Regions from separate parts of the Homo sapiens genome. Here region 2 is linked to region 1. The links come from fine-mapping of genetic effects on gene expression. A gene starts in region 1. The other region holds a variant in brackets. All regions are shown on one strand. Distances are from middle to middle.

Evidence for each region.
Region 2: its variant is fine-mapped to the expression of PROX2 in whole blood (TOPMed, PIP above 0.99).

What each region holds. Positions count from the first base shown.
Region 1 is chr14:74,868,131-74,884,096 of GRCh38, forward strand. It overlaps PROX2 (prospero homeobox 2), which reads right to left and starts at 8,015. Exons shown (of 6, transcript NM_001243007.2): 1 at 7,765-8,015; 2 at 2,973-3,107. It overlaps DLST (dihydrolipoamide S-succinyltransferase), which reads left to right and starts at 13,786. Exons shown (of 15, transcript NM_001933.5): 1 at 13,786-13,886; 2 at 14,461-14,494. The coding sequence starts at 13,824. It also overlaps the pseudogene METTL5P1. RefSeq lists an enhancer at 7,960-8,459 and silencers at 13,718-13,944, 13,801-14,130.
Region 2 is chr14:74,893,635-74,909,600 of GRCh38, forward strand. DLST (dihydrolipoamide S-succinyltransferase) reads left to right here. Exons shown (of 15, transcript NM_001933.5): 10 at 678-775; 11 at 4,735-4,865; 12 at 6,289-6,362; 13 at 6,655-6,738; 14 at 7,432-7,599; 15 at 8,562-10,109. The coding sequence ends at 8,696. RPS6KL1 (ribosomal protein S6 kinase like 1) reads right to left here. Exons shown (of 12, transcript NM_031464.5): 8 at 15,909-15,966; 9 at 15,467-15,556; 10 at 15,216-15,298; 11 at 13,801-13,896; 12 at 10,317-13,490. The coding sequence ends at 13,380. Among named protein-coding and RNA genes, the nearest start is that of DLST, 20 kb to the left of the region's middle. RefSeq lists an enhancer at 5,185-5,329 and a cis regulatory region at 5,250-5,263. The variant G/A (reference allele first, on the strand shown) is at 4,747.

The sequences.
Region 1 (15,966 bases):
TGCATCTCTTAGACGATGAAAGTAATGTAGGATCATTTTACTTCCCAAATATAGAAATGTATTAAGAGGAAAAGAAAGACACTCTAATGCCACTCCCAGAGAAAATCAGTTAAAATTTTGGTGTTCATCATTTTTGCCAAGCTCTTTTCTCCATGTACAGAGAAGTTTATAATTTCTCGTAATTATATATATATATATATATATATATATATATATATATATATATATATAAACAAAAATGGTATTATAGATATATAGTTTTATGCCTCCATTTTTAAATCTTTCATGTGGATGAATATCAATCTACAGCAACGTTGTGAAAGCTGATAATATTCCATTGTATAGATGTACCCTAATTTACTTAACAAGTTCTCCTTTGATAGATTCCTTCTTATATTTTCACTATTATAGAAGCATAGACAGGCCGGGCGCGGTGGCTCACACCTGTAATCCCAGCACTTTGGGAGGCTGAGGCAGGCGGATCACGAGGTCAGGAGATCGAGACCATCCTGGCTAACACAGTGAAACCCCGTCTCTACTAAAAAAAATACAAAAAATTAGCTGGGCATGGTGGCGGGCGCCTGTAGTCCCAGCTACTCGGGAGGCTGAGGCAGAAGAATGGCGTGAACCCAGGGGGGCGGAGCCTGCAGTGAGCCGAGATCACGCCACTGCACTCCAACCTGGGCGACAGCGAGACTCCGTCTCAAAAAAAAAAAAAATAAGATAGTATGGAGATAGATGGAGAACATAGACCCACAAATCAGACTGCCTAGACTTGAATCCCTAGAGCCACTTAGCTAAGTTTGTGACCTCTCCGTACCTCAGTTTTCTCATCAGTAAAATGGGCATAACCATAATATCTATGGTTATTGTGGAATTCACATCTGGATCCAATAAGTTAACACATGTTATATTTTTAGAACAGTTCCTGGCACTTACTTATTGCTGATAAGTTGTAGCTATTGTTATTATGAATAATATTGGGATTAACACTCCTACATATTTCTTTGGGGACTACATTTCTAGAAGTGAAAATATTGCATCAAAGGCTGAGACTACGTTAAACTGTTCTACTTCTTTTCCAACTGTCCTCCAGAAATGTACCAACTGACTGGGGGTAGAGAGGAGGGACTGAAGCAGAACCTTCAACTTTTTTTTTTTTTTTGAGATGGAGTTTAGCTCTTGTTGCCCAGGCTGAAGTGCAGTGGCGTGATCTCGGCTCACTGCAACCTCTGCCTCCCACGTTCAAGCGATTCTCCTGCCTTAGCCTCCCAAGTAGCTGGTATTACAAGCATGCACCACCACACCCGGCTAATTTTGTATTTTTAGTAGAGACAGGGTTTCTGCATGGTGGTCAGGCTGGTCTCTAACTCCCGACCTCAGGTGATCCACCCACCTTGGCCTCCCAAAGTGCTGGGATTACAAGCATGAGCCACCATGCCTGATCTCAACTTTTACTCTGTGTATTTCTATATTAATTGAATTTTTACAAGAATATATTCGTGTGTTACTTGTATATATATACTTTTAAATAGCCAATTTATGCTCCTACCAATGTATCTATAAAAGAACATACATCTCCTTATCTTTATCAACGCTGGGCATTGTCTTTTAAATCTTTGCCGTTATGGTAGGTGACAATGTTACCTCATTATGTGTATTTCTTTGATTCTCAGTAATCTTGCTCAGTTTTCATATATTTTTTGGAAATATTCATGGATTGTATATTAAGAAACTTAAAAATGTTTATACCATTTGAATCAGTGAGTCTATGTCTATGAAGTTAAGCCAAGAAAATGATGGCTAGACTCATAAATTTATGTCAAAGATGGCCATCCAAGTATTATTAATAAGAGTAGGCACTAGTTAAGGTATGGTATAATCTACATGATGCCATATTATGCAACCGTTTTGAAAAATAGTGTTTAAGTAAAGTTTATGTAACATTATTTTATAAAACTGGAGTGGGGGGGTAAGAGAAAATTAGATATTAAAAATACAAAGAAAAATATGAGGCCAGGTATGGTGGCTCATGCCTGTAATCCTAGCACTTTGGGAGGCTAAGGTGGGAGGATTGCTTGAGCTCAGGAGTTTGAGAGTAGCCCAGGCAACATGGCGAAACCCTGTTTCTCCAAAAAAAAAATCACCTGGGCATTGTGGTGGCTTGTGCCAGTAGTCTCAGCTACTAGGGAGGCTGAGGCAGGAGGATCACTGAGACCAAGAAGTTGAGGCTGCAGTGAGCTCTGATTGCGCCACTGCACTCTAGCCTGGGCAACAGAGGGAAAGCCTGCCTCAAAAAAAAAAAAAAAATACACACACACACACACACACACACACACGCCCATACATTATAGAGAAATAAATACATCAAAATGTTGTTTATGGGTAATAGAACCACAGGTAATTTTTTTCTCTATTTTTTCTTTTTATTTTTCTGAATTTTCTAAATTTTTAATGGATATGTTTTCAGTTTTGTAATGAAAAAAGGCAATCTTGCCTTTGTTAATTAAACATTTGCATGTATGGAGAAAGCTATGCATGTTGAAGGCAGGGGATATATGCGAAATCTCTGTACTTTCCATTCAATTTTGCTGTGAACCTAAAACCACTCTAAAAAATAAAGTCTAGGCCGGGCGCAGGGGCTCACGCCTGTAATCCCAGCACTTTGGGAGGCCAAGGGGAGTGGATTGCCTGAGGTCAGGAGTTCGAGACCAGTCTGGCCAACATGGTGAAACCCTGTCTCTACTAAAAATACAAAAAAATTAGCTGGGCGTGGTGGCATGCATCTGTAATCCCAGCTACTTGGGAGGCTGAGGCAGGGGAATTGCTTGAACCACGGGGGTGGAGGTTGCAGTGAGCCGAGATCAAGCCACTGCAGTCCAGCCTGGGCAACAGAGCGAGACTCCATCTCAAAAAAATAAATAAATAGATAGATAAATAAATAAAGTCTAGACAGATGTGGTGGTGCTTACCTGTAGTCTCAGCTACTCAGGAAGCTGAGGTGGGAAGACTGCTTGAGCCCAGGAGTTCAAAGCTGTAGTGTGCTACGATCATGCCAATGAATAGCCACTGCATTCCAGCCTGGGCAACAAAGTAAGACCCTGTCTCTAAAAACATAAAGTAAAATAAATAAAGTCTATTTTTTTTAAAAAAACTGCACTTTTTTCTCATTAACTCTTTCCCAGATACATATTCCTCGGTACCAGAAATAAAAAACCCCACTGGAGAAGCAAATTTAGCTACAAACACAAGCATAGAACACAGGGCTTATAAGATAACTGCGAAGGCACATAGGATTTTATAGCTGGAAAATGTAAAATGAGGGTGAGTTTGAATTTCAAGTATATAATGGACGACATAAGGCTAGATGTGGTAGCTCACGCCTGTAATCCCAGTGCTTTGGGAGGCCAAGGCTCAAGGATCACCTGAGCCCAGGAGTTCGAGACCAGCCTGGGCAACATATCAGATCCAATCTCTGCAAAAAATAGAAAAAATTAACCAGATGTGGTGGCACCTGTCTGTGGTTCCAGCTACTTGGGAGGCTGAGGTGGGAGGACCTCGAACCCAGGAGGTCGAGGCTATAGTGAGCCATGATAGCACCGCTGCACTCAGCCTGGGCAACAGAGCAAGACCCTGTCTCAAACAAACAAACAAACAAACAAGAACATACGAGAGAAGTTGTGTGTTGTCTCCTTTCAGCTTTGTGTTAGAGCACCGGGGCATGAGCTGAAAAGGAACAGCCAGTGTCTGTGGCATCATCACCTGCACAGATCACCTCCTACATGGCAGCCTTTCTCCCTGTGGGTCTATGTCCTTCCATGGAATATCCCTGGAGAGCTCCCGAAGCTCTGCCCAAGTGGGACAAAGGGGAAGGGCTGCCTATGAGGCCAGCTGAGGTGAGACTGGCAGCTCACAGGCCATGTCTCCCCTTCTGTGATGTGTACACATTTAGGGAACAGCAAACACCTTTGATGCGCTTCAGCTGGGTCACAAGAGAACCAATCAATAAAGCAAGGTGGGCTATGGAGAGTCCTTAGGTAAAAGGTACCTCGTGAAGCCCAAGAGATGCTAACTCATTCTCATCACTGTCATTGAAGCTCAAATCAGATTTATACAAGCAGTTTTATTGTTATTTCCTTGATAAAATTCCTGCCTGGTTTTTGTTGGGAAAACATGTTTTTCTTTGCAGTATTTTGTTCATTCATTTCCTAGATTCAGTTGGATTCCAACTGGACCAGCCTTGTGCTTAGTAGATGACCACCCAACGTGATTGGAAAGGTATGGAGGAAAATGCCTTATCCTGAAACAGCTGCTTTTACCTTCATCAACACTCATTATGGGATCTAAGGGCCCACCACTGGCATTTCATAATAATGATGACTTAATCACATCTGTATATGAATACATTTTTGCCTTACCCATTGTACTCCTGAACAGCCGCCCATCCAAATACTTGCCAGACAGAGCTAACTTTTGCTACTGATGAAGACTTGTTCAGGGTAGCACATCTCAAAGTCACATAGCGTTTTTATGCTTTTCAAAGGCATTTTCATATACAGCCTTGTCCTGTTTTATTCTCTATGATGAGAGGCCCCCTGCACTGTCCCCACTCTGCTACAGGTCGGAGGCCACCCATCCATCTCTGGTCCAGCCCTGAACAGGCTCTCTTCACTGCACTGGCTAATGACAGAAATGAGGAGAGGGGGTCAGACTGACAGGCCCAGGCCACACAGCCCTGTCCATCCACAGACACAGACACAATGGAGTCAGAAGCCCTGGTGGTCTGCATCAACCACTGCATGGCTGTGAACTATGGAATGATCTACCAGGTATTAGACCTGGGGGGAATCGTTAGCTATTTTTTTTTTCTTTTGAGATGGAGTCTCGCTGTGTCACCCAGGCTGGAGTGCAGTGGCGATCTTGGCTCACTGCAACCTCCACCTCCTTGGTTCAAGTGATTCTCCTGCCTCAGCCTCCCGAGTAGCTGGGACTACAGGCACGTGCCACCATGCCCAGCTAATTTTTTGTATTTTTAGTAGAGGCGGGGTTTCACCATGTTAGCCAGGATGGTCTCAATCTCCTGATCTCATGATCTGCCCGCCTTGGCCTCCCAAAATGCTGGAATTACAGTCAGTCGTGAGCCACCGCGCCCAGCCCTTTGTTAGCTCTTATGTGAACTTACACAAATTAACTCTGCCTTTTCCCCTTCAGTTTCTCTGGCTGTAAAATGGGGTTGATAACAGTCACTCTCTTAGGATTGTGGTGAGGATCACATGTGGTGGGCCTTGCATTCTCTGGTGCGGGAAATAGGCACTCCTTAAACTGGTTTCCTTTCCTCCTAGGGGGGGTTCAGGAGCCCCCACAGCCATAGAACTCCAGAGCTGGAAAGGGCTTAGGAGCATCTGGTACAGTGGCTGGTCTCCAGATTTTTATATTTTTAGATGTCAACCATTAATAAAATGAAGAGGTCTTCTGGCCCCGGCCAAGGTGCCAGTCGCCTCCTGAGATCCTGTGCCTTCAAACCCTGAGAGTCCATATTTTTAAAAAAACAAAATGAAGGAATTAAGGCTTAAGGAACTAGAGAGTCACCTGCAATAAGTGGATGGATTCGAAAAGGCCAAGCTACTTCTAGAACAGTATCCCACCAAGCTTCACATTGCAGCATGTATGCTGTATGCAATCCATAGCACTTATGATGACATTGAAAGTGAAGTTTTTGCAGATCTAGGCTGTAGTGGTGGAATGCTTAGCATGGGAACTGCAGTGTGAGGAGCAGGGTTCTGTGTTGGATTTGACAGAGATGAAGATGTATTGGAAATAGTTAATAGGAATGTGGAAGAGTTTGAGTTAACAAATATTGACATGGTTCAATGTGATGTGTGCCTGTTATCTAACAGGATGTCAAGTCATTTGATACAGTAATTATGAATCCGCCTTTTGGGACCAAAAATAATAAAGGGATAGATATGGCTTTTCTAAAGACCGCTTTGGAAATGGCAAGAACAGCAGTATATTCTTTACACAAATCCTCAGAGAACATGTTGAAAAGAAAGCTGCAGAATGGGAAATCAAGATAGATATGATTTCAGAGCTTTGGGATGACCTGCCAGCATCATACAAGTTTTTTTTTTTTTTTTTTTTGATATGGAGTCTTGCTCTATTGCCAGGCTGGAGTGCAGTGGCGTGATCTTGGCTCACTGCAACCTCTGCCTCCCGGGTTCAAGCGATTCTTCTCACTCAGCCTCCCAAGTAGCTGGGATTACAGGCGCCCACCACCGAGTCCAGCTAGTTTTTGTATTTGTAGTGGAGACAGGGTTTCACCATCTTGGCCAGGCTGGTCTTGAACTCCTGACCTCGTAATCCACCCACCTCGGCCTCCCAAAGTGCTGGGATTACAGGCGTGAGCCACCGCGCCCGGCCTATACAAATTTCCTAAAAATAAATCAGTGGGCATTGGAGTGGACCTAACTCAGTTTTCATTTTAAAAGCCCCCAAAACAAAAGTAGTTTAAAACTTATTTAAAATGAATAAAAATTGGTTTACTAAAAATAAAAAATGAAACGAAGAGGAAAGATATTGGACCAGTTTGAGAGTTACTGACATTTTATTTTGCAGGTGAAGGCACAAAAAATAAGTATACAAAAGACTACTATCTACCATCACTTTTATTTCCTCTTTAAAATTTTTTCATCTCCCTTCATGACACATGATTTTTATTTCTTAAAGAATCTTAGCTGGGCGGGGTGGCTCACGCCTGTCATCCCAGCGCTTTGGGAGGCTGAGATGGGTAGATCGCCTGAGGTCAGGAGTTTGAGACCATCCTGGCCAACATGGTGAAAACCTGTCTCTACTAAAAATACAAAAATTAGCTGGGCGTGGTGGTGCATGCCTGTAATCCCAGCTACTCAGGAGGCTGAGGCAGGGAGAATTGCTTGAACCCGGGAGGTGGAGGTTGCAGTGAGCTGAGACGTGCCATTGCACTCCAGCCTGGGCAACAGAGCAAGACTCCATCTCAAAAAAAAATAAAAAATAAATAAAATAAAATCTTAACCACTTTGTTTTTAAAAGAATAAAAGGGGGAAATGCATAATATGCAAATAAGTTTAGCTTTGCGAAAAACTCTTTACATTGTCTTTTCTCATTTTTCTAAAAACCAAGGGAAATGTCACAGGCTAGCGTTAGGGGTCCGAGGATCTTCATGACATGCCTTTACTTTATGGATGAGGAACCAGGAGCCCAGAGAGGTAAGGTGACATGCCCAAGGTCACACAGCAGCTGCAATGCCTCCTTGCTCTCTAGGAAAACACCCCTGGACATCAGAGATCCTTTCATGTGGCTGTACAAGCACTTGGGCTGGGAGTTAGGAGGTCTGGGCACTACTCCCAGTCATTGGCCCTAAAGCCGCATATTCTGCGTTTCAGCTTTTATAAAATGGAGATGATAATCATCCCTTCACTGAGAACTTGGGTGAGAATCTAATGAAAGAAGAGCTTCAAAAGGGCTCCAGAGATGCATACACAGTATTATGGAGTGAGGAATTAGGGAGTGAAATGTCTCCATGTCTATAATTTGCCTGAAAGTATTTCAGCCAACAAAAATAAGCAAATACATATGAACAATTGTTAAATCTAGGTGATGAGTATAGGGGTGGGTATTGCTATGCTACTCTGTCTACTTCTCTGCATATTTGACAATTTTCATAATGTTCCATAATTTTTTAAAAAGTACTCTGGCAAGGTAAATGGAAAGGATGATGTTACTCACAGGGAAGAGGTCCTCTGGGAGGTCCTTGTCTTGGGCTCTGTGGCCAGGTGGGGCCAACCACTCTAGAAGACGGAGCAGCCCACTCTTCACCAGCCCTGGGCAGACAGAGCCATGGTCAGGAAGTGCTTCTGGTTTCCCTGCTTCCTCTCCAGGCAGGCCGGGTGCCCGTGGCTGGGTGAGGGGAGGCTCTGGCCCCTTCTTAGCACAAGGCACTGTCTGACAGACCCAGTCTTGCTGCAGCCGCTGACTCTGGGGACAGTGGGGGCTGCTTAGCGCAGCCAACCGGCATGGGGGGCTTATGAATATGCAAATTGAGGCCAGCTGGTTGGCTGCCCCCATGCCATTTCTCAACGCCACCCCAACTCAGGTGCCCAGAAAAGCCAGCTCAGAGAGGGCCTTCCTGAAATGCCATCTCTTCTGTCTTTGCCTATGGACCACAGAGCCCTTTGAAAACTTGGGGACTGAATCACCCAGCTTCTCTCATTGCTCTGGCCTCCAGCGGGAAGCTCCTGACTTCTGCTTTCAAATTCCCCAGAGAGGCAGCTCCAATATGAACATCCTCTCCCTGTCCCTCAAGCATCCTGAGAAGACTGGAATCAGCCCAACAGCAAACCATGGCATCTCAGATCTGCAGGAAGGAGAGGCTGCGTGGTCCCTCCCTCCCACAGAGGCCTGAACACTGCTGAGGAAGCTGCTGCTGGGCCAAAAGCACCCATCCCTGACAGATCTGGGAGAACTCACTGGCCAAACCCACCTACTCCCGAATGTAACCCAAATTTTGCCTTCCCCTCCTCCTTCAGCTTGAGAAGTGGAGGGGATGTTGTGAAATACAGCAATGAAAATTAGTAAACCACAGCTCAACTCATCAACGTGGACAAATCCTCAAAATACAATGTTGACTGAAAGAAGTAAGTCACAGAGGCTGGGCTCAGTGGCTCACGCCTGTCATTCCAGCACCTTGGGAGGCTGAGGCGGGCAGATCACTTGAGCCCAGGAGTTCAAGACCAACCTGGGCAACATAGAGAGATCGCATCTGTACCAAAAATACCAAAAAAAAAAAAAAAAAGAAAGAAAAAAAAATGTGCTTTTGGTCCTAGCTACTTGGGAGGCTGAGGTGGGAGGATGAGGATTGCTTGAGTCCAGGAGGCAGAGGTTGCAGTGAGCCGAGATTGCACCACTGTACTCCAGCCTGGGCGATAGAGTGAGACCCCATTACAAAAAAAAAAAAAAAAGGGTGGGCGCAGTGGCTCACGCCTGTAATCCCAGCACTTTGGGAGGCCGAGGTGGGTGGATCACAAGGTCAGGAGATTGAGACCTCCTGGCTAACACGGTGAAACCCCGTCTCTACTAAAAAACACAAAAAATTAGCCGGGCATGGTGGCAGGTGCCTGTAGTCCCAGCTACTTGGGAGGCTGAGGCAGGACACTGGCATGAACCTGGGAGGCAGAGCTTGCAGTGAGCCGAGATCACACCACTGCACTCCAGCCTGGGCAACAGAGCAAGACTCCGTCTCAAAAAAAAAAAAAAAAAAAGAAGTAAGTTACAGAATGATACAGGCACTGTGATTCCATTTCTACTAAGTTAAAAAATAGACCAAAAAAAAATACCCACACAAAAACATGTCTAGATTTTCATTGTGTATTCATCAGTCCATTATTTTGAATTACAACTGAATGAAGAGATAGACAGATAGATGGAATCTAGGTATCATAGGTAACACTGAGTGAATATAGGGCATAGTCCCTATTTTAAGGAGCCCAAAGATGGAAGCATAGGCTATAGCCCCATCTACTAGCTGGCCGATAATATTCATAAACTCATAGGCAAGGATGTGAATGTATGGTTCAGAACACACATAAGAAAACCGGGGGATTTGAGGTAAATGAGCTACTTAATCCTTTCTAAAAACACACCTTTTTTCTTATTTAATTTGAAAGTAAATACATCTTTCATTTTCATTTTTTATTTTTTTCTATATCAGACCACTGCTGGAGACATCTTTTTCTTAATTTAAAAACACAGGCAAAAATGTGTATAGAACATAAGCATATTGAAGCTATAATGAAAACAAGGGGATGGTTAATATATAATTCAGTATAGTAGTGGCTAACTGGGTGTGATGATGGAGGAGACCACAGGGAACTTTTCCATTCCTTCAGCTGGGCAGCAAGTATGGGAATTCCTTTTATTATTTTTCTTTTAAACTGGACACATAGATTTTTATATCCTTTTTAATACGTATTTTACAATGAAAATGTTTTTAAAAATTATCTTTTGGGCCGGGTACAGTGGATCACGCCTGTAAGCCCAACACTTTGGGAGGCCAAGGTGGAGGGGTCACTACGTCAAGAGATCGAGACCATCCTGGCCGACATGGTGAAACCCTGTCTCTATTAAAAATACAGAAATTAGCCGGGCATGGTGGTGGGCGCCTGTAGTCCCAGCTACTCATGAGGCTGAGGCAGGAGAATCGCTTGAACCCAGGAGGCAGAGGTTGCAGTGAGCCAAGATCATGCCACTGCACTCCAGCCTGGCAACAGAGTGAGATTCCACTCAAAAAAAAAAAAAAAATTCTCTTTTGAGCCCTGCCACAATTTATATTCATAAACTCTTGCCCCAGTAGATGGTGCTGTGTCTTGGGAAGCTCTAAATGAAGGAGTGCCCTAGCTTATTGGGTTGCAGCTTGGAGTCCATGGAAGCTCGTATGTGAATCTCGAGGAAATCAATTTCAACTTTTACCCTCTCAATGGGATTTTGTATGAAACCATGCTCGAGTGTGTGTGTGTGTGTGTGTGTGTGTGTGTGTGTGGTGTCTTTAGACTGTAATATCTAAGATTAACTTGGGTGATCACTAAAACTCCAGAAGTGCTTTGCCACATTATAACCAGGCTTGAAGTCTTGAAGCCTCTACATCTTTTTTTTTTTGAGACGGAGTCTAGCTCTGTCACCCAGGCTGGAGTGCAGTGACATGATCTCAGCTCACTGCAAGCTCTACCTCCCGGGTTCACGCCATTCTCCTGCCTCAGCCTCCCTAGTAGCTGGGACTACAGGCACCCGCCACCAGGCCCGGCTAATTTTTTGTATTTTTAGTAGAGACGGGGTTTCACCGTGTTAACCAGGATGGTCTTGATCTCTTGACCTCGTGATCCGCCTGCCTCAGCCTCCTAAAATGCTGGGATTACAGGCGTGAGCCACCGTGCCCAGCCTGAAGCCTCTACACCTTCTATAAGAATCTCAAAAATTGTTAAAGACTGTGAAAGCCTGTAATCCCAGCACTTTGGGAGGCCAAGGCAGGCGGATCATGAGGTCAAGATTTTGAGACCATCCTGGCCAACACCCTGTCTCTACTAAAAATACAGTGACACCCTGTCTGACACCCCGTCTCTACTAAAAATACAGAAATTAGCTGGGCATGGTGGCACGCACCTGCAGTCCCAGCTACTCGGGAGGCTGGGGCAGGAGAATCACTTGAACCCGAGTGGCAGAGGTTGCAGTGAGCCAAGATGAGATCATGCCACTGCACTCCAGCCTGGGCAGCTGAGCAAGACTCTATCTCAAAAAAAAAAAAAAAAAAAAAAAAAAAAAAAGACCGTGAAAGGACTGGGTAGCTATCTAAGAAAAATATTAACAGCAACACTGGCAAGAAATTGCCATAGCCCCTGACTACCGTTCTTGGATTCTTCAGCTGTGTCCACCAATGTTGTAAACATGGAAGTATTTAGTCATTCCACAAATATTTATTGAGTACCTACAGAGTCCCAGGAACTCTGATGTCCCAGGTGTTGTGTTTGGAAAATTCAGGAAAATAGAGAGTGGTCTCTTTCCACCTGCTGCTCTATGCAGCATGGGAGACAGACAGGTAAACAGGACATTACAATAAAATGCAATGTAGAAACCCAGACACAGTGCTTTGGAAGCATAGAAAATGTATCTGTTAACTCTGCCAGAGGGGTTAGGAAGGGATTAAGAAGGAGATTTAAAGGATGACTAGGAGTTCCTAGGCAAATAGGAGGAGGAAACAGCCCATGCAAATAGCTCAGCAAGGCTATGGCCAGTAGTGTGGTTTGACTAAAGCTCACAATCTGTGAGAATGTGGGGAGAGAATCAGAACATAATCAGAGGCCTGATTATCAGGTGCCTGGCCAAGTTGAGGAGTTTGTACTTTATCCTACAAGGGAGATAAACTTTATCTCCCTTGCTTTATCCGACCAGGAGAAGCAATGAAAGACTTTAATCAGAGGAGTGACAGGATTAGGTTTGCATTTCAGAAGGATTTCTTTTTTTTCTTTACTTTCTTTTTTTTTTTTTTTTTGAGACGAAGTCTCACTCTGTTGCTCAGGCTGGAGTGCAGTGGTGCAATCTTGGCTCACTGCAACCTCCATCTCCTGGGTTCAAGCAATTCTCTTGCCTCAGCCTCCCGAGTAGCTGGGATTACAGGCATTCACTACCACACCCAGCTAATTTCTGTATTTTTAGTAGAGATGGGGTTTCACCATGTTGGCCAGGCTGGTCTTGAACTCCTGATCTCAAGTGATCCACCCACCTCATCCTCCCAAAGTGATGGGATTACAGGCGTGAGCTACCACACCAGGCTCAGAAGGATCTTTGACACAGATATAAAGGATGATGGGCTAGAGAAAGCGAGAGCGGAGGCTTAGAACTGCTTAGGGAGCTTTTCAAATAATTCAGGTGAAAGCTACTGAGGAGTTAATTGTGGGTAGCAGCAGGGCAGAGCTGTTTTCTCTATTTCTAGTTAGGACTTTGGCCCATCCTTCCAGAATTTCAGTGGCAGTGCTTTCAGGGTTCAGGTGAGTGAAGGCACTGTAAAGGTCCTGATGGAATTTGAGGCCAGCCTGGGCAACATAGTGAGACCCCGTCTCAATTTATATTAAAACATAAATTAATTAGAAAAATAAAAAATAAAGGTCCTGAGGGCCAGGCAAAATGCCTCAGATAAAGAAATCATCATGAACGGCACCAAGTGGTTCATTCATTCATTCATACATTTATGTGTTACTAATTCAGCCAGAGGTTTAAAGCACATCTTTTTCATTAGGAAGGTGAGCCTTAAAGGTGAATACTCAAGGGGCCTGAATACTTAAGGAGGGGAAGGGGATGCTATATGCTTTCACTTCAAGTCAGCGGGAAGAATGGCACACTCAAAGTGGGGAGGTCAGCCTGGCATGGTGGCACCTGTAGTCCCAGCTACTCCAGAGGCTGAGGCAGAGGGATCGCTTGAGCCCAGAGTGTCGAGGCTCCAGTGAACTATGACCTTGTTTCTTAAAAAAACAGCTGGGAGTTTATATTCTAGGGATAGGGTGACAAACGAACAACTTCCAAAATGCACAAGATGTATGGGGAACAATTAGTTTGGCTGGAATTTGCGTTGGGGGGAGATCAGAAGCTGTTGAGAAATAAGGCTATAGTTGGTGAAGATATCCGACTCGTAAAAAGGCAATGGGATTTAGAAATTCCTGGGATTCTGTTTCTTTGACTCGGGGTTAGGAAGACAGGGAAGTAACAAGTGCCTTTTTTTTTTTTTTTAATAGTTAAGGGACCTGAGACTGGGGGTGGGGGGCAATGTCATCTGCCCCAGGCCACACAAGTGTAAGATCAGGCATGCATGTCTGCCAAGGTTTCAGTTCAATGTCCGTGCCCCTCTTTTGCTCTCTTCCCAAGGTACAGAGGCGGAACGGCGCGGTGCCCTCGGGTCCCAAGAGAGAAGGGCGCCAAGCTCAGAGCCAGTTCTGTGGAAGGGTAGGGGAAGGCCTGACCCCGGGGGCAATGTGGTGGCGGGACAGTCGTATACACCTTCAGGAGAACCACCTCAGGCTGACAGGCAGTGCGGAGGGCCCCAAGAGCGCCTTAGGGTTGCCTGCTCCAGAGAGCGGGACTCCTGCGCTGCAGCCGGGATACTGGGCGCCGCCGTGCGCCCACCCCCTGCCAGTGGTTCGCTCCGAACACCCCTCGTCGGGCGGCGGGTACTGCGGCCCGCCCCACTTCCGGTTGTTGTCCGGCCCTATATCCGGTGTCCGCCCGCCCTCGGCTCCTCCGCCGTGATGCTGTCCCGATCCCGCTGTGTGTCTCGGGCGTTCAGCCGCTCGCTCTCCGCCTTCCAGAAGGTACGGTCTGGCCGAGCCGGGGCCCCGACGGGTGAGGAGTCTGTTGGCGGGCAGAGAGGCGGCCTGGAAGGCAGGGGCGCGGCGCGCCGGCCGGGCCGGGCACCAAGGGCACTGGGACGCGGAGGCCGCGCGGGCTGGGCGGCCCGGGGCCGTGGTTGCCCTCGGGACCGTTTTGCGGAGCCCAGCGGCCCCCTGCCTTCTCCAGGCAGCCTGCGGGGAACGTTTCCTGCTGTACCCCACCCTCCGCGCGGGAGCTGGGGAGCCGCGCCCGTCCAGATACTTGACTCAGAGTTAGGGAGGAGGCGCGGCGGAGTCCTCCGGCGGGATTCGGCGCCCGTCTCGTCTTGCTCTGTTAAAATCAGTGGGTATTAATGAGTCCCGTTGGGAAGTTGAGATAGTTTGGCAGGCCCAGCGTGTTGATTGGGTCTGCCAGCACGGTGTGTTGCATTTACCTTCGGAGTTACGAGATTCACCTGTCACCACCACTGGGACAGCTTTGAGCGTGTACTTAAAAGAAAAAGCTGGGTTTTTTTTTCATCTTGGGTGACGTCGATAATGTCTTCTTTCTCAACAGGGGAACTGCCCTCTAGGGAGACGTTCCCTGCCTGGTAAGTTCTGCCCTTACCGTCACCTAAAATGCTCTCCTCCTGGGCAGAGCAGTATGTGAGGAACTCGGGGGTGCCTGTGTTTCTCATAATATTTAAAGACAGTTTGGTTCAGAGAGTAGTGAGACGCAATGCTACATAATCACGAGCTATCGCTTATTCATTTAGCTCGTAGTTGAGTTTCTACTGTGTTAGGCACTGTGCTAGACGCTAGGGATACAGGAGTGGATACAGAAGTGTACAGTTCTTGCCCTCGTGGAGCTCCTAGGCTAGTTGGATAGTGTCAGTTGCTAAACAAGCCAACAAAGGCAAATTTTTGTAACTGCTGAGAAGGAAACGAGGGTGGACAGAAGAGCCCTTTTTGAGGAGGTGACTTAAAAGTTATGGCCATGGCCGGGCGCGGTGGCTGACGCCTGTAATCCCAGCACTCTGGGAGGCTGAGGCGGGCGGATCACGAGGTCAGGAGATCGAGACCATCCTGGTTAACACGGTGAAACCCCATCTCTACTAAAAAATACAAAAAATTAGCCGGGCGTGGTGGCAGGCGCCTGTAGTCCCAGCTCCTCGGGAGGCTGAGGCACGAGAATGGCGTGAAGCCGGGAGGCGGAGCTTGCAGTGAGCCGAGTTCGCGCCACTGCACTCCAGCCTGGGCGACAGAGCGAGACTCCATCTCAAAAAAAAAAAAAAAAAAAAGTTATGGCTAGCAGAATGTGACGGAGCTAACCCAGTGAAGCCCAGGAGAAAGAGAATGGCATTCACAAAGACCCTGAGGAAGAAAAGAGGTTGGCAGAACTTAAGAGCTGGAAAAAAGGTGATTTGGCCGGAGTATTTTGGTTAAGGGAGAGAGTGGCAAGAGATAGAAGATGGTATAGAGACTGAAGGAGTTTAGATTTTATCCTAGCAGTTAAAAAGAAAAAAGTGTCATCCATAGCTTTTTTTCTGTTATATGCCTAGCCTAAGTATTTGTTGAATGAGTTGACCTTGTTGTGGGCTTTCTTTGTGCCAAGCATTTATATGAGTGCTTTCTGTGAATTTTTTAGTTAATCATCTCAAAACAGTAAAAAGTATTTTCTCTATTTTACAAATGCATAACCCAAGACAAGAGAGCTTAAAAGCCTTGGCCATGGTCACCCACCCAGCTGTTGATAAGCCAGGTCTACCTGACCCATCCTGAACTCTTAACCCACCATGTTCTCATTTACTCATGGACTCAACAGATCATTTATTGAGTGCTTACTATATGCCAGCCACTGTTCTAGGTAACAGGGGTATAGATAGACTCTAGCCTCGAGATTTTATGGGCTAGCTGGAGAGAGAGAGCAAATATACATTTATGCTCCGACAAGGGCATAAATTTTGGTTACTACGAGAGAGGAATTAAAGGGTGTGATGAGAGGGTGGGATGATGTAGACCAGCTTGGGAAGGTTGGGAATGTCAGTAAAGGCTTCCCTGAAGAAGTGACATTTAACTGAGA
Region 2 (15,966 bases), 26 kb after region 1:
TTTCCTACTATATTATGCTACCAGTGAAAGCCTTGGGTAAGTTAAATATTTGTAGGGGTGGTAGCTTAGTAACTCACCCCCGTCCTCCCACGATGTCACACGCTTCAGAGAGGTGGTTTAGTGAGCTCTATTCCTATACTTCTGGGATACTTAGCTGTAGCTAAGGGATAATACTCAGTAGCAATAGCTGTCAGGTGCAGACATAAAGCCTCAAGGAAGTATGGTCAGGATTGTGGTTCCTCTGCCTGAGAATACTTCCTAAAAATATGATAGCCTCGAAAGTTTGTTGCTCATGAGGTTCTGTTCCACAAATAGCTATTCTTATGCAAATCTTTATCAACAGAAAGTGCCCTTTTTCTTATGATTCTTATGTTGGCTAGACTACACTACACTACATTCTTTTATAAATGGGTTTTGGTTTTTAAATCACTGTTTCTGAGCCTTCATTCTTGGTCAAGCTTTAGGCACATCTGAGTGAGTAGTTTTGGCCTGTGTTTGCATGTTTTTGCTTGGAGGAGAAAGGGCCACCACAGGAAAGGGAAGCCTGGAGCTCGTGTACTTAGATACTGTAGTCCTTGGCCATCTACTCGTGGCAAGCCGTGTTCTTTCTGACTACACGGGGAATGCTTGACCCAGAGAGATCAGATTGTCAATGCTTGTTCCACTCTTACTTTCAGGAGAAAATGAACAGGATGCGGCAGCGCATTGCTCAGCGTCTGAAGGAGGCCCAGAATACATGTGCAATGCTGACAACTTTTAATGAGATTGACATGAGGTAGTGTCTCTAGTCCCTCTTATCCCCTAGGCCCCTTTTTCTTAGAGAACACGAACTTGCCCCACTCCTTATCTAGTGCTGATTCTAAAACTAACTTGTCAGGGAAGAGGTATTTGTTTATTGTTTTTTGTTTGTTTGTTTTTGTTTTTGTTTTTTGAGATGGAGTCTCGCTGTCTCCCAGGCTGGAGTGCAGTGGCATGATCTCGGCTCACTGCAAGCTCCGCCTCCCGGGTTCACGCCATTCTCCTGCCTCAGCCTCCAGAGTAGCTGGGAATACAGGCGCCCCCCACCACGCCTGGCTAATTTTTTGTATTTTTTTAGTGGAGACGGGGTTTCACCGTGTTAGCCAGGATGGTCTCGATCTCCTGACCTCGTGATCTGCCCTTCTCGGCCTCCCAAAGTGCTGGGATTACAGGCGTGAGCCACCGCGCCTGGCCTGTTTATTGTTAACTTTCACAGAGTGAGCCGCTGGCTTCTTCTCTAATTGGCTTTCCTAATACTATGCCTGCCTCCTCCATGACCTTAACCTTAGCCTTGGCTAGGTGTAGTGGCTCACACCTGTAATCCTGGCACTTTGGGAGGCCGAGGCAGGCGGATTGCTTGAGTCCAGGAGTTCAAGACCAGCTGGGTAACAAGGCGAAACCCCACCTCTACAAAAAATACAAAAATTAGCCAGGTGTGGTGGTGCACATCTGTAGCCCCAGCTACTTGGGGGGCTGAGATGGGAGGATTGTTTGACCCCGTCACTTACATATTTTCCTAAGTGATTCAGAATCGAGTGGATGAAAAGGCAAAGATAGGCTGGGCTTGTCTTTCATTTTACCCAGCTCTGACAGTGAAATGGAAAACAAGTTGTGTTTTTAAATAACCTTAGAATGTTAACCAAAGGTACTAATTCACTAGGTATGCCCATTTCTGTAGTGAGCTAATTGTTGACTTACCTGTTTTCTTCAAGATTTCAATGTGTTCAAGTATCAGCACTGTCAGGAAGAGAAATTTGACAAACGTGTTTTGAGTGCGTACTGTATACAGAGTACTGTACTGTGGAATTCAGTGGGGATAGACGCTGGGCACCATGGCTCGTGCCTATAATCCCAGAGCTTTGGGAGGGTGAGGAAGGAGGATCGCTTGAGCTTAGGAGTTGGAAACCAGCCTGGGCAACATAGCAAGACTGTCTCTACATAAAATTTAAAAATTAGCCAAGTGAGGGCTGGGTGCGGTGGCTTGCGCTTGTAATCGCAACACTTTGGGAGGCTGAGGTGGGTGGATCACATGAGGCCAGGAGTTCGAGACCAGCCTGGCCAACGTGGTGAAACTCTGCCTCTACTAAAAATACAAAAATTACCCAGGCATGGTGGCGTATGCCTGTAATCCCAGCTACTCGGAAGGCTGAGGCACAAGAATTGCTTGAACCCAGGAGGAGGTTGCAGTGGCTGATATCGCGCCACTGCACTCCAGCCTGGGCAACAGAGCGAGATTGTGTCTCAAAAAAAAAATTATGTATGGTGGCATGGACCTATAGTCTCAGCTACTTGGGAGGCTCAAGTGATCTTCCTGCCTCAGCCTCCCAAATGGCTGGGACCACTACAGGCATGTGCCACCAGGCTTGGCCAATTTTTTTAGTTTTTGTAGAGACAAGGTCTCGCTGTGTTGCCTAGGCTGGTCTCCTGAACGTCTAGGGTCAAGCCATCCTCCTGCTTTGGTCTCCCACTGGGATTACAGGCATGAGCCACCATTCCTGGCCAAAAAAGAATTTTTAAACAGGTCTTCAAGAGTGACTAGCATTTTGTCAGCCTTGTGGAGAAAGGTCATTCCAGATGATGTTAACAGTGTAGACCATGAGATGGGAAAGTAGAAGACACATTTGAGAAATTGTCAAAAATCATTTCTGTTGTGAGGATTTTGTATAGCAAAGAATGGTAAAGAAGGTTGGATCCTTATTTCAGAATGTTTTGAATGCCAGGGTAGGAGTTTATATTTAATTCAGGAAGCAAGTCAAGTCTCAGGTCATCTCTTTCTTTCTTTTTGTCCTGAGGGTTTAGTCTGCGAATCTACTTTTCATTAGAGAAATTTGCTTTTCTTTGGAAAGGGTTTGAAAAATAGGGAGAAGGGAGTGTTTTCTTGATAGTGCGCTGTGGCATTGTTCAGAGTAGGGCTCTGTGACCTGTTTTACTAGATGTCATCCATTCTGTTGGGAAACTTTCCGAAGAGACTGGATGACATTCAAGCCAAAGATTTCTCTCTTGTTCATAGGATGTAGGGGAAGGACCTTGACTAATGAATCACAAAGGCTGCAGCTTATGTTTCAGTGCATTAGGGCCAAATTGTACACAAATTGAATTGGACTTTGAAATTCTACCCAGTTTCTTAAGACAAAACATGTAAATATTTGTGGCCCTGAAAGATGCAGTTGGCCCAACAGCTTTGATTGGAAAGGAAGCGTAATAGCTGGATCTCCTTTCAGCAGCTAATCAAGGTGTCACTTAACAATGGCCTGCGGTCTTGCTGCAGCCTAATTTGGTTTAGATCGAGTGCCCTTTGGGTCTTGTGCTGATCAGCTAACCCATAAGGGACCTTTCTGAGACCTTCTCCCTTCCTCTATTGTCCCAGCCTTTGCCTCCAAGGGCAGAGCTCTGAAATAGAAGCTACTTAATGACCAGACAATAACATTTGGGCAGGTTTGAGAGCAGAGATGTTTATCACATCTCTTTCCCTCTTCTGCAGCTCTTGTGTCTTGGGAACCAGTAATGTCTTTAGGGTGGTAATCCTAGCACTAAATAAGGTTAGAATCAGGAAAACAAGCATTTTAAACCCAATCAGTCCCCCTTGGAAAAACTTCCTTTTTCAAAAACAAAAGATCTGAAGGGGGCTGTTAAAATTGTACCACATCTTACCTTTCATGCTAATGTCGAATTAGGCCATTAGAGGGAGAAAGGGAGAACTGAGCATTTGGCCCTGAGATAAAGTTAAATTCAATTTTCATCGTAGAACTGCATTACTGCATTCCGATAAATACTGAGGTTTATGCAGCAAAGTGATGGGAAAGCCATTTCTCACTAACTCTGCAATGTGTCATTGAAAAAAAACCAGTCCCAAAAGAATAAAGGCTGCTCATGTTGTAAAGGCTTTTCAGAAGGCTTGCTGCTTAATCTGAAGGGAACCAGCCTAAACCACAAGTGGCCACTTTTCTAAATACCAAGGAAATCACAGCCATTAAACTAATCTTAGGGCAAGAACTATGTCTTAATTAGCTTTGTATCTTGGTACCTGGCCCTGACCCTCACATGTAGTAAGGTGTTAGTACCTGTTTGGAAGAATAAGTGGATGGAACTGCCAACCCTGGAAAGATGAAGAACGGATATGACTTTCCGTGGGCCTGAAAGAACACTGGGTTATACCCTTCCCTGCAGAGTCATGACTGCTTTTTCCCGCATGGAGCCTCATGTACCCATGAGCTGTTTATTTTAGTCTCCACTAATCAAGAGATAGGAGGAATATCACACGGGAGTTATACTCAGATTTGGTGGGGTTTTTTTTTTTTTTTTGTATTCTAACAAGAAATAAAAAGAATATTGCTTATTTTGTAGATTTTGTTTATACTTTAAAAAATTTTTTTTCAGGATGGATAGCTCAGTTATTCAGGGCAAGGATGTTGGTGTGCTGTGTGATCTCTTGTTCATATGATGTGTCACTGAAATCTGTGACTTCTAGACCATGAAGGAGCCCTGTAAAGAGATCAACCCACCTTAAAGACAGATTGGGCCTGATTCCTGTAGATTTCTTTGTAAAAGAACAGAGTTACTGTGTTAACCTCAGGTAGACTATTTCAAAACTTGAACTAAGGTAATGGTCCAGAGTGAGGGAAAAGCTCTCACCTAATTGTGTATATGGATTGAGAAACCTGTGTGAAAGTCAAAATGCAGGCTTTGTGGTCAGTTTGTTTTGTAATATTTTCACAGTAACATCCAGGA[G/A]ATGAGGGCTCGGCACAAAGAGGCTTTTTTGAAGAAACATAACCTCAAACTAGGCTTCATGTCGGCATTTGTGAAGGCCTCAGCCTTTGCCTTGCAGGAACAGCCTGTTGTAAATGCAGGTGAGTTGCTTGTGGCTGGAATTGGAGAGGTCCTGGGAGGTAGGTGTATGAGCACAGACCTGCTCCCACATGCAGAGGATCAACAGACCAAGGCTTTTTATTTGCTACCTATAGAAATATCAGTATCTTCCCCAGGGATTTCTTGGTTCACCTTCCTGAAGCAGCATCATGATTACTTTCTACCCGCCAGCTGGGCAGAACAGTTTCTCTTCCCAGTGTACAGCTCGGCAGCTGCTCAGGCAGCAGGCAGTTCTGGGATAGCCCAGCTCTCCAGGCTGTCTCCTGTCAAGGTGGAAGCACGTGTTCTGGCTTCCTCCCCTCCCCCAGCTCCACAGGCCCTGTTACCTTGGGGCCTGACTTCCACAGTTGGTGTAGGCTCCTGGCTGACCTTTGATCTTAGGTCGATGGGCCTCACTGGGAGCTTCGGCTTGGCCTCTCATGGACCTGGTGCTTATTTTCTTTCCTTTTTACTTACCTACGTCATTGTAGTGTTGACCTAACAAGCACTTTGTTTTCCTGTTGACACACTTCTCTGTTCCTTGGGAGATTGGAGAGGGGTCAGTGCTACTTTTGCCATCCTCAGCAGTGTCAGGGGCCCTAAAGGTCTAGAAGTAGAAGCCCTAGTCCCTCCTGTTGAGTGGTGCTCTAGGGAGGTAGAAGGCCATCTTTGTTTTGCCCAAATGTATACCTCTTCTTTTTCCCATTCTTCTCATGCCTCCCTGACTGGCTCTCATCTTTTTCAGTGGCCCCCTTCTGCTTGCCCACACATGTAGGCGGCTCTCAAAAGTTCTCGTGGCCTCTTTTTCACATTACATGCTTCCTCTGGATGTCTTATCTAACAATACAACATGGACTTTCTGCGGAAATGATTCCCAAGCCTTTATTTTCCCATTAGTTGCTAGGTGTACATTTTCAGATGCTGGTTTGCCATCTCTTGAGGTAGCATATTTCAAAGCCAGATCACCCCGCTTACTCTTGGATCTCCCCTCTTCCTCTTGTTGAGAGTTGGAAGCAGAGAATGGGTAGTATCTCTATATCCCTTTTCCTTTGCTAATTTGCCCTTTTTTGGAACATTTGTTAACCCTAGTCATTCTCTGCTAAAGGAGGGCTTGACTAGAGCTACTTAACGAGAGTTTAGTGCATACCTATCCTATGGAAGCCAGTGTGTTGAGCCCTTCTTAGGGCTGCCAAAGAAATGGATGCTCCTATGCCCAGGCTCAGTCAGGGACTTGGGAGATACTATACTTGGGATGGGAGTAAGTGGAATGCCAGCTGCCATGCATAATGCAGTGGTGTTCATGGTGGTTGGTCAGCCCACACTGTATCAAGCTCTGCAGATTTTTACTCTGTTAATGCACATATTACCTCATTAGTCTTGGCCTTCCTGGGGAGTTGTATGTAACATGTATTTTCTCTCTCATAGTGATTGACGACACAACCAAAGAGGTGGTGTATAGGGATTATATTGACATCAGTGTTGCAGTGGCCACCCCACGGGTATGTTGGGGCAGGAGGTGGGGAATGTTGGTCTTAGACCCTCACCTTATCTGTGTGAAGGAGATCACACAAGAGAAATCATTTCTTTAATTCTGTATTTTTAGAAGGGAGTTAGTAAAAGTAACCTTTTTTTTCTTTTAAACCATGCCGCATTCTTTTAACACTTTCTGTTAATCACACTGAGTAATGAAGGTATTCTAGGGAGGGCATACCATGGGTTGAATCAAGGGAGTTGTTAACTATAAAAGGTACTATTAATTTGCAACTGAAAACAGCTTTTCACCCCCTTCAGGGTCTGGTGGTTCCAGTCATCAGGAATGTGGAAGCTATGAATTTTGCAGATATTGAACGGACCATCACTGAACTGGGAGAGAAGGTAAAGTAGAAAGATGTATACAAGCTGCTAAGCAGGCGAGGGAAGAGAGCCTTCAGAAGGCTGGGCTCACTAGCAAGCAGTGCTCATGGAAAGTCAAGTGCATAGCCCCTGAGAAAAGCAGTTGCCCATGAGAGCTAAGTATTTTATATATCTGGTGGAGTTTACCATGCTCTGGTAACTGAAATCTCATCAGATGAGACCTGCTAGAAAAGATCATCTTTGAAGTCTTCAACTGTATGAAATTGTGCCTTTTCTCTGGTGGAGCACTGGTCATAGACACCTTAGCCGAACAACTGTCACACGGAAGCTAGCGCTTGTGCCATCGATCTCGATACAAGCTTTCTGGACTTCCTTTGCTTTTTTGTTTTTAGAGGCAGGGTCTCGCTGTGTTGCCCAGGCTGGAGTAGAGTGGTAGAGTCATAGCTTACTGCAGCCTTGCACTCCTGGGCTCAAGCGATTCTCCTGCCTCAGCCTCCCAAGTAGCTGGGACTACAGGTGTGCACCACCATGCCTGGCTAATTCTTAAGTTTTTTATACAGATGGGGGTCTCACTATGTTGCCCAGGTTGGCCTTGAACTCCTGGCCTCAAGCAGTCCTCCTGCCTCGGCCTCCCAAAGCGCTGGGATTATGGACTGACTTTAGGTGAAGGAAACTGGGTTGGCTTGATATTTCAATTATGAAATCTGTTTTTAGGCCCGAAAGAATGAACTTGCCATTGAAGATATGGATGGCGGTACCTTCACCATTAGCAATGGAGGCGTTTTTGGCTCGCTCTTTGGAACACCCATTATCAACCCCCCTCAGTCTGCCATCCTGGGGATGCATGGCATCTTTGACAGGCCAGTGGCTATAGGAGGCAAGGTAGGAACCGTCACTTCTAAGGTCCTAGTGGCTAGGTCTCGATGAAAGGGAAATCCAACTAAATGCTAATTGTAAAACATTAACTATAATTTCAGGCCTAAGTTCCATTTCTTAGTTTCTAATAGCTAAGGCACTGATTATCAAATTGTGGTCTGGATCAGCATCATCTGGGACCTTATTAGAAATGCATATTCTTAGACCCCATCCCAGACTTAAAGAAGAAGTGCAGATGATCCTGATGCATATTCAAGTTTGAGAACCACTGAGCTGAGGAGGCTTGTTTGCTTCTATGGAGTGGGGGATATAGTTGGAAACGTGGTCCCTTGCCCCTGGGAAACAGATGACAATTATGCATGTCAGTCTGTGAGCTGCCAAGTTGTATGATAAAGCTTGTAAATTTCCCGGGAGTTCAGAGAATTAAGTATTAAAAGGGGCTTGAGCTGGCCCTTAGAAGATACGTTGGTATCAAAAAAGCTTTCTGGGAACTCCTGTGTTTAGAATCCTTTTGGGTTACTGACTCCTGTGTGAAACCACAGTCTGTAGATCTTCCTGGAAAATGCCCATACACCCAGCTACACATACAATTCCAGAATTTGTAGACCCTGGCTTAATTTTTTTTTTTTTTTTTAAATTCTAACCCCAGAGAGAAGCAAGTACAGGCAGCCAGAACTGAAGGGAAAACTTTCCTTGTAGGCAGCAGATGCGTTAGAGGGCAGAGTATGTTTTTAAAAAATAAAAGGCAGTTGTGAGAAGACAGTTTTCTTGGCAAACTTTGTTTCTGAGTGGGGAAGCTTTGCACTGAGGGTAAGTCCTGGTCTTTGAAATACTGTAAATATGCAGAGGCAACATCAATAGGAAAGGCTCTGGAATTAGGAACTTTCTTATGGGCTGTGCTAAATCTCCTTCAGCGAGGCTGGCTGTGGCTTGCTGGAGACAAACCTATTTACCTTTCCTCTCTGTAGGTAGAGGTGCGGCCCATGATGTACGTGGCACTGACCTATGATCACCGGCTGATTGATGGCAGAGAGGCTGTGACTTTCCTCCGCAAAATCAAGGCAGCGGTAGAGGATCCCAGAGTCCTCCTCCTGGATCTTTAGGAGGAACCCACACACCCTACAAGTTGATCATGCAGGAACTGAAAACCAGTCTTCTCCCTGTCCCCTCATGGGTCCCGGGTTAGCCTGGTGACAGGCAGACACATGCTGTTGGCCTCAAGCAAGGAAGCAGAGCACTGTGTAACCAGCAGTCACAGGTCTTTTCTTGGCGTTCCTGCCAGGCTCTCCCTCTCTGCACCTGTCTCATAGCCTCGAATATCTTAATTCCTTAGGCTTAAGAGAGAGAGCCTTAATGGATGCTCATTCATATTCCTGCCTTTCTTCCATCAGCTCTCTGCAAAGATGATTTTGCTTTTCCCTAGTGCTGGTATACTATAGAGAAACCCCTGGGGACCATGTGATTAAGTTCCTATCTTTTGAAAGTTTGTTCTGCAGAGACTTCTAGGAGGATGCTGTGCCTCCCAAGCTCAGAGCAGCCTCTGTCCTGGCTGTGCACATTCTCCCTTGATTCCACTTGTGTGGAGGGATTGAACACAGGCAAAGAGGTGCTGCTTTGCTTCTTCAATGGCACCTTCATTCTCCGTTGTCATTGACTTCAAGATGCCTCTTCTACCTCTTCCAGGAAGCACAGGCCAGGGGATCTGGGTGTGTGAGTGGGAGGAGAGGGCAGAGGTCCCCTGAGGTCATGCATTGTAATCATCATAGAAGGAGAGCCCAGGCCTGCCCTCACGCTCTCCATCATAGGCTGACACCAAGAAGACTCGTCTTGGCACAATCTCACACAGCTGGGGCTGTAGCAACCCTTTCCAACCCCTTTGCTGGTTGCTGGGCCTCATTCTAGCACCTTGTTCTTAGAGCAGATTCTAGCACATCATGGCAGTGGGACCAAGCGTGGTCCCGAGGAAGGGCCAGAGCCTGGTAGAGACTAGGGAAGGGAGGTCTCCTCTAGACTGACTCACATTGCCTTGAGCTTTTCAGTTAAGTTGCTGTAAGCACCTGGGCTGAGGAGGCAGTTTTTGTTCCTTCCTGCGTTATAGCGGGGCCTTGTCTCTTCCTCTGCAGGACACAGATCTGGAGGACGTGGACTGGGGTAGGAAACCACCCTGAGGGTGTTAGTACCTAGTGGTGAAACGGATGAGGTCATTTCTAAGGTGTGTTGCCCGTGGATCTGGGCACAATCATTGGAATTCCTTGGAGCCACTGGGATTCATGGCTTTGTATCCAACTGCATCCAGGCCTGAGGCTGCTGACGTTTGACACCAGGGCCAGTAGAGAGTGCCCTTTTGTATCTTAAGCCAAGAAGTGAGGCCTGGGGGTGGGGGAGGGGGGAAGGGGTGGGAGCCAATACTGAGTGCCTGCAGCATCTACTACTCTGTCTTCACTATTCAGAACTTGTAACTAAAGTATTTAAAGAAACTGATTTTAAATGCAAATTAAAGGGCAGATATTCTCAAACAGGGTTCCTGTATCTGTTCCTTTTGGCTACTGAGGTGGTACAAGTCCCCAGCACTGTTGCACTGAAATTATTGAAAGCCACTCAAGGTCCTGTTGCTTATTTTGTGAAATCAGAAATCCCTTATGTGGAACTTAACACTCATAATTTGACAGAAGGTAGAACCCTGACTGCCAGCCGGGAAAGTGTTGCCAAAAAGAGTCAACCTCTGTAAAAATATTTGAAGAGATTTATTCTGAGCCAAGTGTGAGTGACTGATGGCCTGTGATACAACTCTTAGGAGATCCTGAGAACATGTGTCCAGGGTCGTCTGGCTACAACTTAGTTTTATACATTTAATACATTTTAGGGAGACATAAGATACCAGTCAGTACATGTAAGATGTACAGTGGTTTGGTCTGGAGAGGCAGGACAGCTCAAGACCTGGGGATGTTGTCATAGGCAGAATCAAAGATTTTCTGATTGGCAATTGGTTGAAAGAGTTATTATCTAAAGACCTGGAATCAATAGAAAGGAATGTCTGGGTTACAGTAAGGGGTTGTGGAGACCAAGGTTTTATGCAGATGAAGCCTCCAGCCAGCAGGCTTCAGAGAAAATAGATTGTAAATGCTTCTCATCAGACTTAAGGAGCCTGTTTTAACAGTAATTCCAAAAGGGAGGGGAGTATAATGAGGAATGGCTGGCTCCCTCTTCCCACCATGGCCCGAACTAGCGTTTCAGGTTAACTTTGGAATACCCTTGACTGAGACGAGGGGTCCATACAGATGGTTGGGGGGCTTAGGATGTTTTTTGTTTTGTTTCCATAAAGCATCATAGTCTCTTAGTGCCCCACCTTCCTTGAGCCTGTCAAGCCATACTCTAGAATAGAGAATTTGGGGTCACCATCTTTGTGAAGCCCTTTCAAAACACCAGTAGACTTGCATTTTTTGTGTGGGCTTACATTATTTCAGTGATGGATTTGGGAGGAGTGGGGGCATCTCATTTCATTTGGATTTGATAGCCTTGTGGACCAAGATGCTCAAGGTCAATACACATGAACAGGTGAGGGTTGATGACCTAGGAGCAGTGGTCAGTGAGCGTGAGTGTACAGGGTGGGTAGCTAACCTAGACTGCAGGTGGCAGGTGTGATGGAGTCCAGGCTTAAACACAGCCTTGTCTTTTCCAGAGTCCCTGTCTGCTGAGCTCTTGCAGTGAGGCCATCCCTCTGTGAAGGTCTGTCACAGGAGGGAAGTGGGTCCCAGAGAGTAGAACTAGAGCTCTAGTAGATAGAAAAACAAATTAGGTTGAATGAAAGGAAGAACAGGATTTGGTGTTAGAAGCTTTAATTTATCTATCTGGTAAACCTGCAAAATAGGCATTATTTACCCCATTTTATCGAAAGGAGGTCGACTGTAAGAGCTGGGACCCACAGTATTCTAAACTCAGGGCCCAACAAAGTGTCAGATGTGTAGCTTTGGGTGGATGAAGCACAGAAGTTCCAGAAGGGACTTGTGCTTCATGAAGCGGTGGTTGGAAGTGGTCCAGCCTGACTTAGGGAGAGTAGCAGAAGGAACACTAACTTGCAACTCTGGCTAGGTTGTGTCCTTAACCTTTTTGAGCTTCAGTTTTCTCAGGAGCTACCGTCTGTTGCAAGGGGTCACTGTGAGGATGAAACTGGTATTCCCCCAGGCACCATGAGCCTCTTCCAAGGCTTCTTCATCCTCTTCCCCACAGAACCTGGTCCTCCCCGACCCCACCCCTTCCCCTGAGGCCCACATGGCATGCTGCTCACCACCAGCCCTGCGTCCTACTTCCTGGCAGCCCCAAGCTCGCTCTTGACTTCACTCTGGAGCTTCTACAGGGGAGCCTTCCAACCTGCCCCAATGAGCCGTGGTCATTGCATGGAAGAAGCGAGAACACCGTAGGCCAGAGCAGGCTTTATTGGGGCCGTGTAAACCCCAGGGAGAGGCAGGACGTGGACCACAGAGAGTCATGTACAGGCTGCGCTTTCACTTGTCTTCTCTGTCTCAGTCTCCTGAAGAGCCCGAGGAAGTCAAGTCTCCCCACCATGAGTGAGGGGTCTGGTCTGACAGTTGGGCCTTCAGAGCCAGGCACGTGGACCGTGTCAGAAGCGCCACCTGGTGGTGACTGGGATGCTGGCAGGGAGGAGCTGAGGGCAAAACTCTAGTGGAAATTTCCCAGGTCGGTCCCACGCCCCGGTGACAGGGTGAACCCTGAGAGGAGCCCCCAAACTGGAGGCAATTGTCTTTGAGGTAACCACTCACCCCAGCTTTTCAGAGACCAGAGGCAAGACATTTCTGGCTAAGAGCCATGGATAGTTGTTCCATGCGTTTTGTGGTTTCTTATCCCAAAAGGGCATGAAGTCACAGTAGGCAGTGACATGGTAAACAGCCAGGGCCTGAGAGGGAGTCCTGATGGGCACACCTTGTCTAAACTGCTTTGGCCTGGAAGCTGAATTGCTGTCCTCTTGCACCCCTGGGGCAGGCTGCCCCTCTTCCCCCACACAGGCCCACTGGGGAGGAGGACTCTTGATTCTGGTTTCAGACTTGCTCTAAGGGGCAGACCCATGCATTCCTTCCTCCCCCCATTACTCTTATTTTCTTCCCCTCCCTTTTGCTCTCCCAAGTCTGAAATCACAAGATAGGGGGCATGGTCAGGAATCGGGGGTGGGGGGGTGGGGGTGGGGGTCATCCTGTCCCCTACCTCATCCCTCCCTGCACAACAGATGGCATCCCTGCTTCTGGGCCTCCCCAGCTGCACGAACAGCTTCTGGTGGAAGAGGCCTACTCGCTGTGTGACTAAGAGGACTAGCCAGGACAGTCTGGTTTGGGTCCACTGAGCCAGTGGATCAGTGTCCTGAGATGAGTCTCCAGAGATGTCCTGAGTGGGGCACAACATGGCAGTGAGTGAGTCACAGAACCTCACAGTAGGGTGCAGCAGGTGGTCAACAGCTCAGCGCCAGTGCCACAGAAGGCAACCTTTAACATGGTGAGTCCACATGCTCAACGGGTCTGTTGACTGATGGGTAGATGGTTCAAGCTGCTTAGCAGGGCAAGCCTTGACTGCCCCCACCTCCAGCTTTTCCAGGAGCTGGCCCTTCCTGGGTGGTGGCCATAATTCTGAGGCCCCAGTGGGAGCCCAGCAGGACAGACAGTGCCCTCCATTCCTCGCCCAAAGCCCGCTGATAGAGGGCCAGCCCTGGGTTGGGTGTCAGGCAAGGAGGAGAGGCGATCCAGACCAGGCCAGCTGCTTCCGTCACCCGCTCTGCCCTCTTACCCCACCAGCTTGCTCCATTGGATGGTACTGAAAAAGGGATGGGACTTGAGTTTGCTGACACCACCTTCTCCCATGCCCAGGCGCCGGGTAGGCTCGAACTGCAGCAGCTGCAGAGAGAGGCCCAGTCAGCTGGGCCACTCCAGCTGTGGAGGCATGGGGTGACCTCCAGGGACTCCAACCACTATGGCCTCTAGGGGGCCTGCTCCCTGGCAGCCTGGCCCACAGAACCCCCATTTTACCCTGGGAACATTGGTGGTGGTTGGCCACCAACATATAGAAATGTGTTGCCCCTACTGCCCTCTGCACCCACATCAGACACTGAGCACGAAGCACACGTGGTTCAGACACAGTTCTGTGCCCCTCCCAGCACCTTCCTCAGGCTAGGCAGCTGCTTCCTCTGGCCGGGCTACACCTCACCTCAGTCAGCAGAGAGGCCGCTGGGCGACTGAGCCACTCGGGCAGCTGGAGCTGGGTGTGGGCCTGGATTCCTGAAGGGTGGCTCTGGGACAGTGCCTGGGAGGACACAGGGAAGGGCCTCTGAGGAGGCAACCCCAGGACCGTCTACACTCCAGTGGCAGCCAGGATTTTTTTTCCCCATGTCACAGCCCATGAGGAGGATGACAATAATGATAGTTGCTACAGCCAGACACAGTGCCTGATGGCTAAGCAGTGCCTTTATGTTATCCACGAAAGGCAAGAAACAGGCCCAGAGAGGTAAAGGGACTTGTGCTGAGTTCAGGGTTTGAACCTAGGTCTCTTGGCTCCAAGCTTGCTAGAAGCAACTATCTTGGGTTGCAATCAGGGCAGGCACTCTTGGGAATAGTGATGGAACTTGTCTCCTTATTTTAAAAATCCACACGGGCTGTTCATTTGGCAGCAGGCCATGGCATGCTACCATCGGGGCCAAGGCAGCGGCGTGGCAATAAAAGAAAATAGGACCTCTCCACACCCCAGAAAGGCACAGCTTTGAGGAGCAGAGGGTCTGTCTGGAGGGAAGTATGAGCTTCCAGGAACCCCCAGGAGGAAGGCCAAGAGCTCTGGGCTGGAGAGGTGGGAGGAGACAGGAAAAGAGAGAGCCACTCTGGGGGAAATTGCAGCCAGGACTTTCGGGACCCCGTGCCATGGGACGAAAGCAGGAGGGAGCCTGGATGGACTGGTCAGCTCTGGACTTCAGTTCACGCTGCATCCATTTCGGCTATTTCCTGCTCAAATGCAATTTGGCCTCCCCCTTGCTGCCTACATAACTGGCCTCAGTTGCAGTGTTCAGCTCATGAGGGGAGGACAGAAGGCAGAGCCATCAACTGTTCCCAAGAGTGCCTGCTCTGATTGCAACCTGCAAACACAGGTTCCCGGAGTGTTTGCAGGGGGATCTTTTGAGCTCTTGGCTGACCCAGGCTGGACAGGGCAGCTGCTTGCCTGGGTGAAAGAGCCCCTCTCTCCCATCCTCCAGCTAAGGTCTGGGGGTGACAGCCAACGAGGTCATGGGTGGGAGGAGTGAACAGCGGGCTCAGGATGATTGAACAGCCTTCCAGGGAAGAAGGGCTGTGTCACATTCCGCGCTTCCTCCAAATCTGACACCACCTGGGCCCAGGCTCTCTGGCAGAAACCTTCCCTGACCATCCCACTCTACTCGTATTCATAGAAGTTGACAGTCTCCTTAGCTATAGCCAACTAATGTGTTGGGAGTGCTAAGTGTGTCCCTGGCTTCGGGGGCAGTTGTGCTGGTAGGACAGCCAGGCAGTCTCTGCCCAGACTGGCTGGATGGACTAAGCCTGGCCCATCCCACACTCAGTGGCACCCACCAGGGCACTACACCCAGCCCAGCCACTCACCATTCCCGTCAGCAGTTCATACAGTAGAGACCCAAAGCTCCACCAGTCACAGGCTTCCGTCAGCTCGGAAATCCCACCCACCTCTGTGGGAACAAGAACACAGGTGTCCCAGCCTCACCTAAGAGGGCCTCTTCCATTCTCCTCAGCCTACCCAGACACCACCCACCCGCTCTGTCATTCTCAGACTCTGGGCACAACCCACACAAAGGCACCCAGGTGCTAAGGCCCACCCTGGCCTCCCCCCTTCTTGCCTGGGGCGCTGTAGAGATTGTCCACGGCCTCCCCGCAGCACTGGGGCTCCACCTCTGACCACTGGCCAAAATATGTGAGCCGGATGTGACCTCCAGTGTGTGGGAGGAAAAAGGAGGGGACAGATTGAGGACAGCTGATACAGGGGAGGGGGTTGCAGGGCTTCCCCCAACAGTCATGCGGTAGGAGCCAATGGCCTTGCTGGGCAGAAACTCGGCAGGGGCACAGCACCCTCCACAGAGGCACAGCACTCTGAGGCCCACAGAGCCCACAGGGTACTCCCAGGAGCCTCGGCCAACAGACTCCAGCCTAGGCCCCCTGAAAGGCTGGCTGGGGCCAGGGAGGAGCAGACAACCTTGGAGGTCCCCTCGACTTTGGGGATCTCTCGTCCTCTGCCTGGACGCTTTGGGGGCCACCCCACTGAGGGGTGAGGAGGGCACCTACCTGCCTGGTCCAGGAGCAGGTTCCCGGGGTGGAGGTCCCGGCACAGCACCCCCTGCTC